2 separate regions of the Homo sapiens genome follow, and region 1 is linked to region 2. A link means that fine-mapping ties the variant in region 2 to the expression of a gene that starts in the linked region. Tissue or cell type: monocytes. Region 2 holds a variant in brackets; the other region holds the start of a gene. All regions are shown on one strand. Distances are from middle to middle. Region 1 holds the start of GFI1B (growth factor independent 1B transcriptional repressor). Region 2 has its middle 17 kb from the start of SNORD141A.

Region 1 (8,745 bases), 24 kb before region 2:
ATATTTTCAGATAAGTGTGAATGCTAAGAAGAAAGGGGTGGGTGAAGGAATAGAAAGTGACTGGGGTGGGGAGGTCCTACTTTAGTTGAAGGTCAAGGAGGTCTTTCTGCAGAAGTAACATTTCCGCTAAGACCTGGATGACAAGAAGGAGACAGGCTTGGGGAAATCAGAGAGTTAGGCCATCCAGGCAGAGGGCACGAGAAGTGCCAATGACCTGAATGAGTGAGATTCCAGACAGTATCATTTGAGCATCTGGATCCAACCATGTCAGAAGCTGAAAATTTTCTGTGACATGAATTAATTGTTTCATTGTTATTATTAAATGAGTTTAAATTGTGTTTCTGTACTGGGCACGGTGGCATGCACCTGTAATCCCAGCTACTCAGGAGCTTGGGAGGATTGCTTGAGACCAGGAGTTCAAGACCAGCCTGGGCTACAGAGCAAGACCCCATCTTTTTGAAACTTCCTGCAACTCGCATCTGGAAAAGTGCTGTTATTTGAAAGGGTGCCGACATTGTGAAAAACACGGAGTATTGATCTCTGAAGCTGAGATTTTTGTCCTAAAGGTAAAGGGAAATTATTGAAGGTTTTTAAACCAGGGAAGAATCTTCCTGATCTTTGTTCTTTTTCTTTCTCTAGGCTCAGCTCTCAAAAGTCCTAACCTTCCCTCCCCTTCCTTCAGTCTGCGTTTCTTCCCTAATGAACTTGGCTGCTGTCAGCTCCCTTCAGGGGACCTCCAGCTCTTAGCACAATGCTGTTCTTCTTTGAGACACTTTTCCCTACCTTCCTTCTCCCAACTAACTTAGCCTAGGCATCAACTTAGATATCACTTCCTTCACCAACCCCCCCAAGCCTGGGTCCATTTCCAAATGCCCCAGGCTTCTTTTGTATACTATGTTTATATCACAGCACTTGTCACCCCAAATTGTAAATTTCAGGTTGCTCTTTCCTACCCTCTAGACCAGGAAGGAATATGAAAAGTCCGGCTGTTTTTTGAAACCCCAGCATGTGGTGCCTTGTTGTGGGCACTCGATACACATGTGTTACATAAGGGAGGGAAGGAAAGAGCTGATACACGAAAGGTACCTAATGGTAACTGTTAAATGAATGAATAAACTGATGAATGGGCATGGGAATGCGGAAGCGATTTAGCTCTTGGGAGAGACTAAATGAAGGTGTTGACTCCAGGGCTGCTCACTAAGGGAAGTGCTGGTAGCTTTACAGGCAGCCCTGGAGGGGACACAGAGCATGGGAAGTCCAGGGCTGTAAGGGCCTGGGTGAGGCTGGCTGGGGACTCCTGGCTTCAACTGCTATGCCAGGGGACTGGCTGCCTGGCCACTGCTCTCCCATCAAGGGGAACCTGGGTGGCTTCATCTGCAGGCTGGGTCCCTGGTCTGGGTCTGGGAAGGCTGTCCCTGTGTCAGTTACTCACGGGGGAAGGTAGGGACCCTAAAGTGGGATTACAATCTTAGAACAGCAGTTGAACTGCATGTGCCTGATACAGCCGCTTCCTATTAGAAAACACCCTAAACAAGTGGAGGAAGCGTTTGGTGAGATAAACCATGAAACCATTAAAGATTTAATGGTGAAACCATTAAAGATGTCAATAAAGGCTGCAAACGAACTTAGGAAGCACTTCCATAAAATCATGTTTCACGGAAAATGACACGCTGGTTTACAGTAGCAAAATGTGTGTATGTGTGTATAGGGAAGTGAGAACATGAGGAAACTGGGGACTTGTTGACTTGGAGAGAATATTTTAAGTTTTCTGCATAATGACAAGCAGTTCTAGCTGATTGTTGGCAATGTACAACACCCACAGAATACTCAAGATGTGTCCCTGGCTGGGCACAGCAGCTCGTGCCTGTAATCCCAGCACTTTGGGAGGCTGAGGCAGGAGGATCGCTTGAGGCCAGGAGTTCAAGACCAGCCTATTGTGAATAGTACCACTATAAATGTAAGTGTGCAAATATCTCTTCGATTCTGCTTCCAGTGATTTTGAGTCTATACCCAGAAGTAGATTCACTCACTTTTGACATTGCATTCTCTGAATTTTAGAGGAGACATTTGAGAACTTCTAAATTTCAAATAAAAATAATGATTTAGACCAGACTGGACAGCATAGCAAGACCCCATCTCTAAAAAAAATAAAAAAATTAACCAGGCATGGTGGTGCGCCTGTAGTCCCAGCCACTCAAGAGGCTGAAGCAGGAGGATCTCTTGAGCCAGGGAGGTCGAGGCTGCAGTGAGCTATGATTGCAACACTGCACTCCAGTCTGGGCTACAAAGCCAACTCCTGTCTCTAAGAAAATAATAATAATAATAATAATTTTCTTGAGACAGAATTTTGCTCTTGTTGCCCAGGCTGAAGTGCAATGGTGCGATCTGGACTCACCGCAACCTCTGCCTTCTGGGTTCAAGCAATTATCCTGCCTCAGCCTCCTAAGTGGCTGAGATTACAGGCATGTGCCACCACACCCAGCTAATTTTGTATTTTTTGTAGAGATGGGGTTTCTCCATGTTGGTCAGGCTGGTCTTGAACTCCCGATCTCAAGTGATCCTCGCCTGCCTCGGCCTCTCAAAGTGCTGGGATTACAGGCGTGAACCACTGTGCCCAGCCAATAATAATTTTTTAAAAAGATGTTTCTTTCCACCAAGAGAGACCACAGAGCTGGGAGCAGTGGTCTGCTGTCTGTAGCCTGGGGCTGGGACTGACACCCCAGCATTACTGAGGCCTGGTGACCACAGGGTTGTGTCCTCCTGGCTGGTGCTCCAGGGCTGGCCCAGCAGAAAGACCTCGCCTGAAACACCCCTTTTTCTTCATTTTGAACCTTGGACTTGCAGTTTAAATTGGGGCTTCCTGTCACCAGACTTGTTTTCTTTATGAGGGAAACATAATATCTCCAGCACCCGGGCTGGAAGAGCAGACAAAGCAGCCTAACAGTGCTCTGTTTGTGGCGTTCTCATCTTATGCAAAACCTCCTGAAATAAATCAGTCATCCTGCAAGCGGGAGGAGGCGGGGGCCAGAGGAGGAGGGAGAAGGTGGGGAGCCAGGGGATGGGACGCCCTGCCAAATGGGAAGAAATGCCCCAGCCAGCTCAGCCAAGCTTTACCGCCCTCACTCCCCCCAGCATCAATGGGACACCCCAGAGGCCCCCACTGGCCTCCCCATCACTTTGTCTGCCACCAGAGGGCAGCACACACGGGCTCTGGCACCTGGCCTTCAATCTGTATGGCAGCTTCAGCAGGCCGAGCGTCTCCTGGCCTCCGAACTCACTGCCACACCTCCAGGGTGCCTCTACCCGCTCAAAGGTCATATCTGGGGGAAATGCAAATTTGATGTCTCTTCTGAGATATGACCTCTGCAAGGACAAGAGGGGCCTCTATGCATGTGGCCGGCTCGGGTACTAGGGGCATTGCACCAGCCTGGCTCTCACAAGCCTCAGGGTGCTGAACTTGGGGAGGGAGGGAGGGGAGGAGGCAGCGAGGAGGGAGGCAGGGAAAAAAGGAGGGAGGAAAGGAGGGAAGAGAGAGAGAGGAGAGGAGGAGAAGGAGGGAGGGAGGGAAGGAAAGAAGGAGGGAGGAAGAAGGAAAATAAGGAAGGGAAGGAAGGAGGCAGGGAGGGAGGAAGAAAGAAAGGAGGAAGAGAAGGAAGGAAAAAGGAGGGAAGGAGGGAAGGAAGAAAAAAGGCAAGAGAAAAGAAAGAAGAAAAAAACCAAAGAGCAATGACTTCCCTATGCAAAATCGAGTTTTATAAGTTAGAGCTTTTTCTAACTTTAATTTTTAAAATTTAATAATTTAGCCATCACTTTCTTTTTGTGCAGATGTTATTCAAAATTTCCAGCGAAATTCTGAATTTCTCTGCAGAGAGAAAGCGTGCCGCTCCAAGTGTCGAGGGTTAGAAATGAGAATTCGAAGTCTTGTGTCCTGGAAAGTTTTGATAAGCAAATACGGCTGAGCTCCCGCGCTCTCTTCATTGGCTGCTTGTTCACCGCCAGATTTTGACACAAATAATCAGATTGAAAATCAGGGAGGGGAACAGAAGAGGAAAAACACACAGAGAGACAGAGCAAAAAGGAGAAGTATCTATTTGTGCAAAGAGTCACACAGTTGACAGAGTGGAGGCCAGTCCCGAGAGAGGCTTTGCAGTTCCCACCTCGGGAAGCTCCGGCAGAACCCAGGCGAGGGACAGCTCCGGACAGGTGAGTGCTGGAGGATGCGTTTCTACGCTTTTGTTTTGAAATGTGCCTGTGCGCCGCAGGTGGCTTCACAGCAGGCTCCCTGGCTCCTCCTGCGGTCCTAGGAAAGGTGAGGTGGGCTGGAAAAGCTCTGGAAGGCAAGGAGCCAAGGGAGAAACAGGGTGAGGACGTAGCCTCGTCTGAGCCACTGTGCTAGGAATTGCGCCTTTGCCGGCTGCGCAGAAACACTTTTCAAAATTTGATTTTAGGCTGACAGACGTCACCTTCGGGCACAAAGTCATACCCACAACCCAGCTGTCCTGGGGACCTGGGCAGTGCTCAGGGAGACACACTTCCAAGTGCCTGAGTTGTGTTCCCCCTCGGAGACAGTCCCAGACTTTAGGGACTTGACTAAAGTTCCTGGGACACTTTTTTTTTTTTTTTTTTTTTTTTTTTTGAGACAGAGTGAGACTCTGGAGCGCAGTGGTGCGATTGCACTGAAACCTCTGCCTCCCGAATTCAAGCGATTCTCCTGCCTCAGCCTCCCAAGTAGCTGGGATTACAGGCGCGTGTTACCACGCCTGGCTAATTTTTGTATTTTTAGTAGAGACGGGTTTCACCATGTTGGCCAGGCTGGTCTCGAACTCTTGACCTCAAACGATCCACCTGCCTCAGCCTCCCAAAGTGTTGGGATTACAGGCATTAGCCACTGCGCCCAGCCAAATTCCCAGGACACTTTGAGAGTCAGGCGCTCTCCCCTCCAGAGCCTACTAAGGGGAGATGACAGGGCTGCCCTCTCCCACACACTGCCCAGGCTCCAGGAACAATAGGACCGACCATGGAGAGGTACTGTTTCAGCTCGCCTTTCCCTGTGGCTGTTGTTAGCCCTTTCCACCTATTTTTGGAGAAAAAAAACCAAGTTTAAGTGTTGAGGCATCTGAGGAGACATGCTCACTCTAAAACAGGACTTGTGAAGAGGAGGTCTGCAGAATCGCCGTGGGTATGTGCCCGTGTACATTTTTCCGGGGAGAAAGTCCAGAGCTTTCACGAGTTCTTAGGGAGTAAATTCGATTACAATCTGTGGGCATGAGTCTGGTAGATATTAGAAGCCAGCTGAGCTGCACCTGACCGCCTGGACGCGCCTGCATGTTTCTTAGTAGGCAACAGGCAGAATATTTCTTCCAAGTCTAGCAAAGTGTCAAGTTTCTTGTCCTCGGAAGTATTGCAGAAGGAATTCTTTGGACAAGAAAATGCGTAATTCCCCTTGCTCTTTCTGTCAGAGTTTGGTCTTCCTGAAGAGAGTTCTTGGGGAACATTGGAGAGCTATACCTGGTTTCGGTTTGATTAATGGAATCACTCAAAACCAGCGCAGACCATTGCCCCGAAGCTTTCAGCGGGGCAGGGTAGGGTGGGTGGGAATCTTATTGGACAGTACAAGGATTTTCAAAGGCTCTGGGACCAGATGGCTCCAGATCACCCAGGGAAAACAGCCTGATCAAATGGGATTCTTCACTGTCTGTGCCACAATATCCAGACCCTTGGTTGAAACATCAGCAAACACCACCCCCTCTTAGTCTAGAGGGAGGCTTTTCGTGTGTTCCTTGCCAGGAATTCAAGCCAATGGGAGCTGCTTTAGTCTATAATATAGAGATATGCAGAAAGAGTTTCATTCACTCACTTGTCTTTTTATTTTGATAAAATACATATAACATAAAATTTCCCGTTTTAGCCATTTTCAAGCGTACCATTCAATGGTATTAAGTACACCCACATGGCTGTGCAACCATCACCACCATCCATCCACAGAACTGTTTCATCTCATAAAGCTGAAACTTCATACCTATTACACAGTAACTTCCATTCCCTTCCCCTCACCTCTGGCAACCTCTATCTATTTCTGTCTCTATGAAATTGCCTATTTTAGGGACTCATATAAGGAATCACACAGTATTTGTCCTTTTGTGATTGGCTTATTTCACTTAGCATAAATCCTTCAGGTTCATCCATGTTGTAGCATGCGCCAGCATTTCCTTCCTTTTTAAGGCCGAATAATGTTCAATCATATGTCTAGACCACATTTTGTTTGTTTGTTTGTTTGTTTGAGACAGAGTCTCTGTCACAAAGCTGGAGTGCCATGGTGCGATCTTGGCTCACTGCAACCTCTGCCTCCCGGGTTCAAGCGATTCTCCTGCCTCAGCCTCCTGGGTAGCTGGGATTACAGGCACCCACCACCATGCCTGGCTGATTTTTGTATTTCTAGTAGAGGTGGGGTTTCGCCATTTTGGCCAGGCTTGTCTTGGAACTCCTGACCTCAGGTGATCTGCCCACCTCGGCCTCCCACAGTGCTGGGATTACAGGTGTGAGCCACTAAGTCTGGCCATAGACCACATGTTGTTTGGACATTCATCTGCCATGAAACCTGGGTTGCTTCCACTTTTTGCCTATTGTGAATAGTGCTGCTATAAACATGAGTATGCAGATATCTCTTTGAGTCTCCCCTTCCAATGATTTTGGGTCTATACCCAGAAGTAGATTCACTCACTTTTGACATTGCATTCTCTGAGCTTTGGAGGAGACATTTGAGAACTCCTTCTAAATTTCAAATAAAAATGATGATTTAGACCGGCCTGGGCAACATGGCAAAACCCCGTCTCTACAAAAAATACAAAAATTAGCCAACTGTGGTGGTGCATGCCTGTAGTCCCAGCTACTCGAGAAGCTAAGATGGGAGGATCGCTTGGGCCTGGGAGGTGGAGGTTACAGTGGGCCAAGATCAAACCACTGCACTCCAGCCCAGGTGACAGAGTGAGACTCTGTCTCAAAATAATAATAATAATGATGGTGATGATGATGATGATTACTTTCTGCTGGGGCCCCTGGGCCTGACCTGGGCTCATTTTCCCCCGACTCCTCCACGGACAAGTCTTGTTTTCCCCTTGAATCTTTTTTTTTTTTGACAGAGTCTCGCTGTGTCACCCAGGCTGGAGTGCAGTGGCGCCATCTGGGCTCACCGCAACCTCCGCCTTCTGGGTTCAAGTGATTCTCCAGCCTCAGCCTCCCGAGTAGCTGGGATTACAGGTGCCTGCCACCACACCCAGCTAAGTTTTGTATTTTTAGTAGAGACGGGGTTTCCCCATGTTGGCCAGGCTGGTCTTGAACTCCTGACTTCAGGTGATCCGCCTGCCTTGGCCTCCCAAAGTGCTGGGATTACAGGCGTGAGCCACCACGCCCGGCCTCCCTTGAGTCTTTAAACATAAAGGAAGTCAAAAAGGTTCTCTGTAGCTGACCCTGAGAACCAGCTGAGTCTTACCCAACCCTCCCAAAAGGGGAACCCGAGTGACAAGTCTTTTAGTCAAGGTGGTTCAATCTCTCACTGAAGGTCAACGAATTCTACATGGGATTTTAGAGCAAAAGGGAAGTTTAGAAATCTCTTAGCCCAACCGTCCCTTTTAAGAGATAGGAAAACCAAGCCCCAGGTTGGTGGCTGATGCGGTCACAAGCTCCAGGACCCCAAATCAGACTCAACTCCTTGGGCAACAAAGGGGCCTCATTACAGGGACATCACAGGCCTGTTGACCCAAGTCCAACTGGAAGTTAGGGTGCTGGCTCCTGCCAGGGTGCAGGGTCGCCTGTCTTCAAGAAGCACTGACTGAGATTCTGACTCAGGGTCAGGGGGACTCTATCAGGATCGGGGGTTATGGAGTGATAACAGTGAGCCTCTTTCCGGAGGTCCGATACCATCAAGTCCTCTGTTTTATGAAGAATTCCTGAGCTTCTTTCATAATCTCTGCTCTTAGCTCCTTCTCAGAACGGAGTTCATGTCAATCAAAACCAAGTGGTTGTTAATTAACTACAGTATAGGTGATTGGTTCCTGTTTTTTCTTTAAAAAAAAAACAACTCTGCTAACAGGGGCCAAAAGGAAGTTCACCGGGTGCATTTGGCCCCTCTGTGAGCCAGAGGGCTTGGCCGTGGCGTTGGCTGTGTCACTGTCACTTGCCAAGCTCAGGGGAGAGAACACTGGGGGGAGGCAAGAAAGCGGGTGTGGGGCTCAGGGGAGATCACTAGAAGAAGCATGAGAATCACCTTCCTGAGGCTGGAGAACCCCAGAAGCCAGCCCCATCTTGCCCTGTGCCTAAGTGAAAAGTGCTTGGCCAGGGCTCATGAGCGCTAGAAAGTGTCCTTGTTGTGGGGCCCAGGGTTAGAGTCAGTTGACCTGGGTTCTCCTTAGGCCCTGAGCCCAGGAGAATACCAATGCTTCCTGAAGGGAAGTCTGTCCCTGGCCTGGCCCCACCAAGACTCTTCAGGAGCCATGTGGGTCTTTTAGGAGCCTGGAAAAGACTTGAGGGTCAGAGGGTTTGATTTTTCTCCCTCCTTTTTTTTTTTTTTTTTTTTTGAGACAGAGTGTGGCTCTGTCACCCAGGCTGAAGTGCAGTGGTGGTGTGATCTCGGCTCACTGCAACCTCCGCCTCCCGGGTTCAAGCGATTCTCCTGCCTCAGCCTCCTGAGTAGCTGGAACTGTAGGCAAGTGCCACCATGCCCGGCTAATTTTTGTATTTTTTGTAGAG
Region 2 (8,745 bases):
TGATAACATTATCACTGGCATGACAAAAAAGACTCTGTCTGCTGAAATATGATTTCCCGGCCTTGAGGTTTGTGTCTCTGTCCCCTCCCTCAAAGCTGCAGGTCCCTTCAGGCCCCTCTAGTGCAGTGCAGAGCCTTGCAGGCAGGTGACTTTTTACTTTACAAGTGCTGGCTGTCTCGCCCCCACCCTGCTACTCTGTGAGCCACCTCCTGGCAGATGCTGGGTCCTATCCTTTGGGGCCAGGGCCTACTAGGTCCCCAGTAAGTTTAGGATGGGTATGCAACCTCCCGACTCCTTCTTAGCAGCTGGGGCAGGGCCTCCAAGGTAGGTAGAGTGACAGCCTGGTTTGGGAACAGTGGGGTGGACACTGGACCTGTGACTTCTCACAGGGTCCCCAGCTCTTCCTCTGGTCTGGGTCAGGGGCTGTCCGGGACCACCTCCATGGGTGTCTAGCTGGAGTTGGGCCTGGCCCGGAGACAGGCAGGACCCAGGGTTCCCGGGGGATGGGGGCTGCAGGGATGCTGCGGGAGGGAAATCTGAGGCAGGGCATGTTCCGACCCGGCATGCTCAGGTTTGGCCTGATAAGTTTATCGCACGGTGCCGGCTGCCAACCGTCGGTGTGGAGTAGAACCATGGGCCAAGCAGGAGGGCACTCCTGAGCCGATAGCGCCTTCCAAGTGTTATCAGGGGCCTGGTGGCCCAGAGAGCGGGAGAAAGGGACCAGAGGAGGGAGAGAGAGAGAGAGTGAGGGAGAGAGACAGACACAGACAGAGAGAGAGAAAGAGAGAGAGAGAGAGACTTCCACCCACTTCACTCAAAGGACAAGCTGGGGAGGAAGAGGCCTCCGAGGTTCCTCAGGGGTCCTTGACGTCCCAGCCTTGAGCCACTGCAGTGGGGAATCAGCCCCGGGCAGGCACAGGCTGAAGACCCCATCAAACCCAGGCATAGCCTTCCAGATCACCAGACAATGCTGCCACTACTCAGCTCTTCCGCAAGACCTAGGGAAAAAACTCCCTTTCCTGGAAGGTCCTGGGGCTCCAGGATGCACGTGGAAATCCCTGGGAGCAGGAGGGCCAGGCAGCCGGGGGCTGCTTCTTTAATTACTTGAACCCCATTCCATCCCACCCCAACCCTTTTCCTCCCTAACCCCAAGCCCCAAGGCCTCGGGTGAGAGTCAGGCTCAGGTTATCTTTTGTGAGTCCCTCTGGGGTGTCCAGCCTGGCACTTGTCTCCATCCAGGGAGGCACGGCTTTCCAACATTACACCCCTCCTCATGACTGGGGAAACTGAGTCTGAGAGTGAGCAGGAGAGCAGGCAGGGGGGCAAGGACCCAGGAGACCAGGAGGAAGAAGAGCAGGAAGAGAAGGGAAAGCTGGGAGGTTCCACGCCCACCCTGAGGTCTGGAGGTCCGACAAGTGCTTCGTGATCTGCAAGGAAAAGTCGCACATGAGGCAATGCCTCCCAGCCCTAAGTGCAGCCACAGGGCAGCCTGGTCCTCAGCTGTGCACAGCCACCTGGCGGGGGGAGGCAGGCGCCGGCATCCACAGGGTTATCTTTGTGGGGTGGATTTTTAAGTCCTTTTGTTTGTTTGTTTTTGTTTTGTTTTGTTGAGATGGAGTCTCACTCTGTCACCCAGGCTGGAGTGCAATGGCGTGATCTTGGCTCACTGCAGCCTCCACCTCCTGGGTTCAAGCGATTCTCCTGCCTCAGCCTCCCTGGGTAGCTGGGATTACAGGTACCCACTGCCATGCCTGGCTAATTTTTGTACTTTTAGTAGAGATGGGGTTTCACCGTGTTGGTCAGGCTGGTCTCAAACTCCTAACCTCAAGTGATCCACCTGCCTCGGCCTCCCAAAGTGCTGGGATTACAGATATGAGCCACCACGCCCACCTAAGTCCCTTTTATATACATATATACAGTTTTCCGTGGTTTCTATAACAACAATGTTTTGGGGGAGGGCGTGGGGAAAGAAAGGTGATTTGTTCATTTGTTTTAAGAGGCAGAGAAGGAAAAGGCATTGCTACCAAGGCTCTCTGACCTGGTGGGAACGGTCCCAGCCCAGGATCAGTCTGTAGGTGCCCACCTCTGCCAGCCTGGGGTGCAAGCAGAGGGCCATGCCAGTGTCTGCAGAGCCAGCAGTGTGTCCCCTGGAGTCATGTATGAGAGACTGCACCCAGGACCCTCACAGAGGCACAAAGACCACCCTGACAGGTCAGAAATCTTTCATTCATCAACTCCTATATCTATCGAGTGCCTGCCACAGGTGGTGAGGATCGGGCCGAGGGGAAAACAGACGAAATCCCCGCCCTCTTGGAGCTCAGCGGGGATGCAGAGACTAAACAAAGCCAGGAGAAACAGAATGCAGAGAAGCCGGGCGTGGTGGCCCGTGCCTGTAATCCCTGCACTTGGGAGGCAGAAAGGGGTGGATCACCTGAGGTCAGGAGTTCGAGACCAGCCTGACCAACATGGCGAAAACCCATAACTATTAAAAATACAAAAATTAGGCCAGGTGCGGTGGCTCACACTTGTCATCCCAGCACTTTGGGAGGCTGAGGCAGGCGGATCACCTGAGGTCGGGAGTTCGAGACCAGCCTGACCAACATGGAGAAACCCTGTCTCTACTAAAAATACAAAATTAGCCTGGCATGGTGGTGCATGCCTGTAATCCCAGCTACTCGGGAGGCTGAGGCAGGAGAATCACTTGAACCCAGGAGGCAGAGGTTGCGGTGAGCTGAGATCGTGCCATTGCACTCCAGCCTGGGCAACAAGAGTGAAACCCCATCTCAAAAAAAAAAAAAAAAAAAAAAGTTAGCAGGGCGTGGTAGCCGGTGCCTGTAATCCCAGCTACTCTGGGGGCTGAGGCAGGAGAATCACTTGAACCTGTGAGGCAGAGGTTGCAGTGAGCTGAGATCGTGCCACTGCCATCCAGCCTGGGTGACAGAGTGAGACTCTGTCTCAAAAAAAAAAAAAAAAAAAGAAAGGTGTGGGGGTGTTGATGACGTGGAGATCACCAAGTTAGATGGGTGGCCAGAGAGACCTCATTAAGAAGCACTGAGTTTCCCTGCACAAGAGAGGGGGTTGTGGAAGGACAGCCCTGGATGGAGTCAGGAGACCGAGGGATGTCACTCTGCTTGGCTGGGTGGCTTTGGTCAGACACTGCCCTCTGGGCCTCAGTTTCTTTTTCTTTTCTTTTCTTTCTTTCTTTAAAATTTTTTGTTTGTTTGTTTGTTTGTTGAGAGAGGATCTCACTCTGTCACCCAGGCTGGAGTGCAGGGGCATGATCACAGCTCACTGCAGCCTCAACCTCCTGGGCTCAAGTGATCCTCCCACCTCAGCCTCCCGAGTAGCTGAGAGTACAGGCATGTGCCAACATAACCAGCTAATTTTTGTATTAGACAGGGTTTAGCCATGTTGCCAGCCTGGGCTCATACTCCTGGGCTCAAGCAATCTGCCCACCTCAGCCTCTCAAAGTGCTGGGATTACAGGTGTGAGCCACTTCGCTCAGCCAGTTTCTTTTTCTTTTTTTTGTGCAGACAAGGTCTCACTGTGTTGCCCAGACTTGTCTTGAACTCCTGGCTTCAAGCCATCCTGCTGCCTTGGCTTCCAGAATAGCTGGGACCACAGGTACTCACCACCACTCCAGGCTAATTTTGTACTTTTTGTAGTGATGAGGTCTCACTCTGTTGCCTAGTTAGTCCTGGCTTCAAATGATCCTCCTGCCTCAGCCTCCTGTAGACACCTCTTGACTCCCAACCTCTGCTCTTTCTGTCCCCTCTACCCAAGTGGCTCTTTTCCTCCTACCGATTTGCTCAGCTCTCTCCTAACTGTCCTGGGCACAGCTCAAGCCTCACCTCCTCCGGATGCCTTCCCAGGCAGTTCTCTTCCCTCTGACACGTTTGTGGCACGATCACAGCACTTTCCTGTGAACGCTGTGAATGGCTCAGGGTGCGGGGTAGGCACACAATAAATGTAGTTGTTATTTCATTGCCAAAAGCTCTGACCTTGGAGCCCAGGTTCTGGGCTGGACCTGCAGGGCCACAGGTCCTCCCAGTCTGGGGTTGGGGAGCAGGTGGGGAGCAGGTGGGCCCCCCCATGCTGTGATGAGCTGAATCCTGCTGCACTCCTCGGCTGTCCCTGCCGACAGCTGGAGCTACAGACACCAGGCTGAAGCCCAGAGCTATTTCTGCCAAGGGTGACTTGGAACTTCCTCCCGGATCTCTTAAAAATAGAGGGGTTATCGTGGCCGTCAGGCCCCTTCCTCCACATGGGGAACTCGAACATGATTTCTGGGGAAGGCCTAAGCCCCAGGCCTCTCTCAGCCCAGCAAGGACTTATCTCTGAGCTCAGCTGGGCAGCAGGAAGGGAGCGAAGCGACCACCGTGGGCAGCTCTTCCTGCCCCAGGAGCCCCTTTTGGGAGCAGCAAGGGATGTGGCCACTGACTCAGGGGTGTCAATCACCCATCTTCCCCGGAGCTGCGGTTGCCCACCGGACTCTGAGGGGAATCAGAAGTCAGTCGCGTAGAGAGCATCCTGGGGAAGCCTCAGGCACCGTCCGGCCTGGCCTTTCTGCTCCAAGCCCTCCCCCTGCGCCCAGCACGACCCCATCTCTGTACACTACCATGAGATCACTGGTGGACAGCTGTCTCTACTGTGTGGCCAGCCCCAGCAGAGGCTGAGGGTCGGGCACCTGGAGGTCAGGCTGGGGTCTACCACTCCCAGCAGCTGGGTCCTCTCTGCAACAGAGGGCATTCCTGGGGGCCAGCCCAGCTCCTCTGGGGATTTCTTCCCACTTTGTAGACCCCAGACTTAGTGCCAATAGAAGACCACTTCTCGCAGGGTACAAAGTCTGTTCAACAAGTATTTGCTGGGCGTCCACTCTGGGCAGGGCCTTGGCAAGACCCAGGAGAGGAGACGCTGTGGGGGGTCTGGAGGCCCAAGGGGGTTACTAAGCCCAGCCCTGGGGTTAAGGGAAGTCTAATGAGGGAAGT[C/T]GACATTTGCAAGACAAAAAGAATTTGATCTGTTGGAAGTGCAGAGGGCTGCCCCAAGCCAAGAAAACAGCGGGGCACAAAGCCCTGGGGGAGACAAGAGGCCTCCCCTGCCCCCAGCTCTTGCCCAACCTGTTAGGGAGCAGTGCTCTAGCCAGCGCCTTCTCAGGGCTTCAGGAGGCCAGTGTGCAAAGCAAGGGTGACCTAGTGGGGTCCTGGGGGCTATCCTGTTGGGGCTTGGCAGCCAGCCACATGCATCTTTGGTCATTGCCACGGTCACGGTCCCTGCCTTCCCATCCCTGCTGGCTCGTGGGATGTCTACGGGGCTTGCCTGGCACCCCCGGCCCTCCTCTGCACTCCTCAGGAAGGAAGGTTCAGGATCCCTGAGCTCAGCCTCCCCAAGGCAGCTCTTTAGAAGCCTACAATCTTAGCTGGAAACCGTCACGGTTAAGGGTTTCCTCCCGGTGGCTCCCCAGCGCCCCTCAGCCCGGCCTGAGACTTATCACTGCCCCCCAGCTGGTGCCCCCCTCCTCCTCCAACCACCTCACCCTGGGTGATTCAGCAAATCTTCCCTCCATGAGGGGAAAAACAAGAGTGAAAAATCACAATGTCAGATTACAAAGCCCTAACTGTAGGGCAGGCCCCTGGCAGGGAGATAAGGGTCTCATTCCCCACCCTCAAAGCCTCTCTGGCAGATAAACCTCCTAGAGCAGCATGGGCTGCACTGCTGCAGGTGTGGGGTGGGGAGGCCTGGCCTCACGGAAGTCTGGTCAGGGGACACAGGGCCCTGCCAGGAGCTGAGGGCCCACAGCTCGGCCACTGTGCAGAGCTGGCCAAAGAGGAAGTGCCACGGCCAGCATTGATGTTGCCATCCCAACAACTGCCTTGGAGGGAAAAAGAGAAGGGCAGGGCCTTCTGAGAAAGTTCAATGACAGGATGCCCCACAAATGCCCTTCACCCTGGGGTGTCCCTCTGCCAGCTCAGCCTGCAAACCATGATCCCTTGTACGACTGCAGCCCAGCTGTGTTGCAGAAGTAAAGGTGTCTGCCCCCATGAAGCCAGCCCAGAGGAGGGAGGAGCTGGGATGCCATTCCTGGGAGGGGGGCCTCCTCTGGGGAGGCCTGGGTGGACTTGAAGGCAGCTCAGCCTCATCTGCCCTAGAGACCTTGCCAGGAGAAATCCTGGGTCTCCAAGCCAGGAGATCTGCTAGGCTGGGAGACCTGCCCTGGGAGCCACTTGTCAGCAGGGGACCCTGTGATTGTGGGGATGAGGCTGGGGGTAGGAAGGGGCGGTCACTAGGCTTCCTCTGCTGGTGGAGGACAATGAAATGATGGCTTTGAAGCTGAACTCTGTGCTGGGCCCTGGTGCTCTAAGCAAGTCATTTCTCTACTTTTTAGCCCCGTATGCTGTCTGTAAAGTGAGATAAGAAAACCCACCCGCAGGGCTGTCCTGGGGAGTCCAGGTGCATGCCAAGCAGGAGTGGCACAGGTCCTGGTCTCTGTTTCCCAGGGTTGGGGACCAGCATCTGGCTGGAATGGGGGTGGCTTTGGGATAAGTGCCTGCATAGCTCTTGGTATCCAGGGCCAAGGGTCCAGCTGCCCAGCATTCTAAAGACTCTCCATTGTCTGGGGAAGCTCTCTGAGGTCATTTCCCACAACACCATGGGATGGCTGCGGTGGGCTAGGGAAAGGAGGGTGTGCAGCAGGCACATAAACTTTCTAGAGTAGTGTGGGTTGCACCACTGCAGGCATGAGGTGGGGCGCCCCGGTGTCACAAAAGTCCGATCAGGGGACATATGGTCCTGCCAGGAGCTAAGGGCCCAGAGCTTGGCCACCGTGCAGAGAGCTGGGCGAAGAGGAAGCGCCGCAGCCAGTGGACTTGGTTCCACTCAGCTGCAAAAGGAAGAGAGTTGGTCAAGACGACGTCTGCAGTCCCTTCACTATAAAATTTTGCAAAATACAAACTGCTCAGTGGGTGTGTAGTTGGCCGAAGGTACTCCACCAAAGAGGTACCAAAAGCTGGTGGGCTTCAAAGCAGCATCGTCCCCAGCAGCCAAAAAGTGGGCACCCCAAGTGTCCATCCACAGATGATGGGTAAACAAAACGGGGCCTGTCCATGCTAGGAAATATGACTTGGCCATCAAAGGGAATGGAGCTCTGACACATGCCACACGTGGACCTTGAGGACATCATGCTGAGTGAAACAGGCCAGTCACAAAAGCACAAGCACAGGATGATTCCACTTATATGAGGTCCCTAGAGTAGTCAAATTCATCGAAAGTAGAATGGTGGCTGGCAGGATCTGGGGGAGGGGAGTGGGGAGTTAGTGTCTAATGGGTACAGAGCTTCAGTTTGGGAAAAGTTCTGGTGTTGGCTGGTGGTGATGATTGCACAACAATGTGAATGTACCCAATGCCACTGAACTGTACACTTAGAAATAGTTAAGAAGGTAAAATTTATTAAGTATATTTTAGTAACCCCTCCCCCCGCCCCCGCCAAAAAAAAAAAGCCCATGTGCACAGTGGTCTCTGCTGAATGAAGACTTGAAAACCAGAGCCCAGCCCTAAACAGCTCATGCATAGTCCAGGCAGAGAAACAGAGCAGGTAATGCCCCCTCAACTGATGGCAGACGGGCCAGGGAGCCCTGCTCTGGGCTGGAGCAGGGAGGCACCTTCAGGGTTGTGGGAGATCTGCAGGGAGAGCCACTTCTCCCTAGGGGTGGGTGTCTGAGCAACAGCACCAGAATCCCAGCGACATTCTCTCCTTCCTCCTTCCAGACTGGCTTTGCCTGCCTCTGAGGCTCTGGGAATGCTGTTCCCTCCACTTGGAAGGCAGTTTCCTCACTTCACCAATTCTTTATCTTCGTCATCCCAAACCCAACCCACATGCACCCCACAAGAAAACCTCCCCTTGCCAGTTATAGACTCTCAAATCCCCCAGAAATTCTGCCCTCTGATGTTGATCATAATTGTCATGAAATAGCTATTTGTGTCATTGTGTGACACGTTCTATGAAATTCTCCATTGCTTCCCCAGTACTCATTAAGGAAATGCTTTTTGTCAGATGGACAGATGGATGGTTGGGTGAGTGGATGGATGGATGAATGATGGATGGATGGATGGTTGGATGGATGGATGGAAGCATGGATAGATGGATGGATGGGTGGATGGATGGATGGTGGATGTGTGGATGGATGGATGGATGAACAGATGGGTGGATGGATGGATGGATGGATGGATGGATGGTTGGATGGATGGATGGATGGATGGTGGATGTGTGGATGGATGAATGGATGAACAGATGGGTGGATGGATGGATGGATGGATGCATGGATGGATGGATGGATGGATGGACGGATGGACGGATGGATGGACAGATGGATGGATGGATGGATGGGTGGGTGGATGGATGATAGGTGGATGGATGGATGGATGGATGGATGGTGGTTGGGTGGATGGATGGTGGATGGGTGGATGGATGGACAATGGGTGGATGGATAGGCAAGCAAACTGAAGGGTCTACCCACCCAAAGGGGCCAATGCATGGAGTGCCTAGGCCTGGATAACAGGGTGCAAGTATACGTGTGAATGGGTGCTTTCGAGTCTTTTGCCTAGAACCATGAATTACAGTTCAGGCCCACTGTCAGTCCTACCTGACACTGTGTGGACTGTGGACCTGTCTGAGAACGGCTTCCTGGATCTAGAGGTTTGGCTGAAGGACAGCACTCACCATCTCCTGGGAGGATGAGCTCTCAATCTGAT

Evidence for each region. PIP is the estimated chance that this variant, and not a neighbour inherited with it, causes the effect.
Region 1: GFI1B starts here. The variant in region 2 is fine-mapped to the expression of GFI1B in monocytes (TOPMed, PIP above 0.99). The same link has a PIP of 0.9 or more in non-classical monocytes.

The regions. Positions count from the first base shown.
Region 1 is chr9:132,974,639-132,983,383 of GRCh38, forward strand. GFI1B (growth factor independent 1B transcriptional repressor) reads left to right here and starts at 4,056. Exons shown (of 7, transcript NM_001377304.1): 1 at 4,056-4,203.
Region 2 is chr9:132,998,763-133,007,507 of GRCh38, forward strand. No RefSeq gene overlaps it. Among named protein-coding and RNA genes, the nearest start is that of SNORD141A, 17 kb to the right of the region's middle. RefSeq lists cis regulatory regions at 44-966, 5,065-6,016, 5,484-5,501 and enhancers at 2,128-2,628, 4,464-5,337, 5,421-5,565, 5,440-5,734, 6,212-7,083. The variant C/T (reference allele first, on the strand shown) is at 4,989.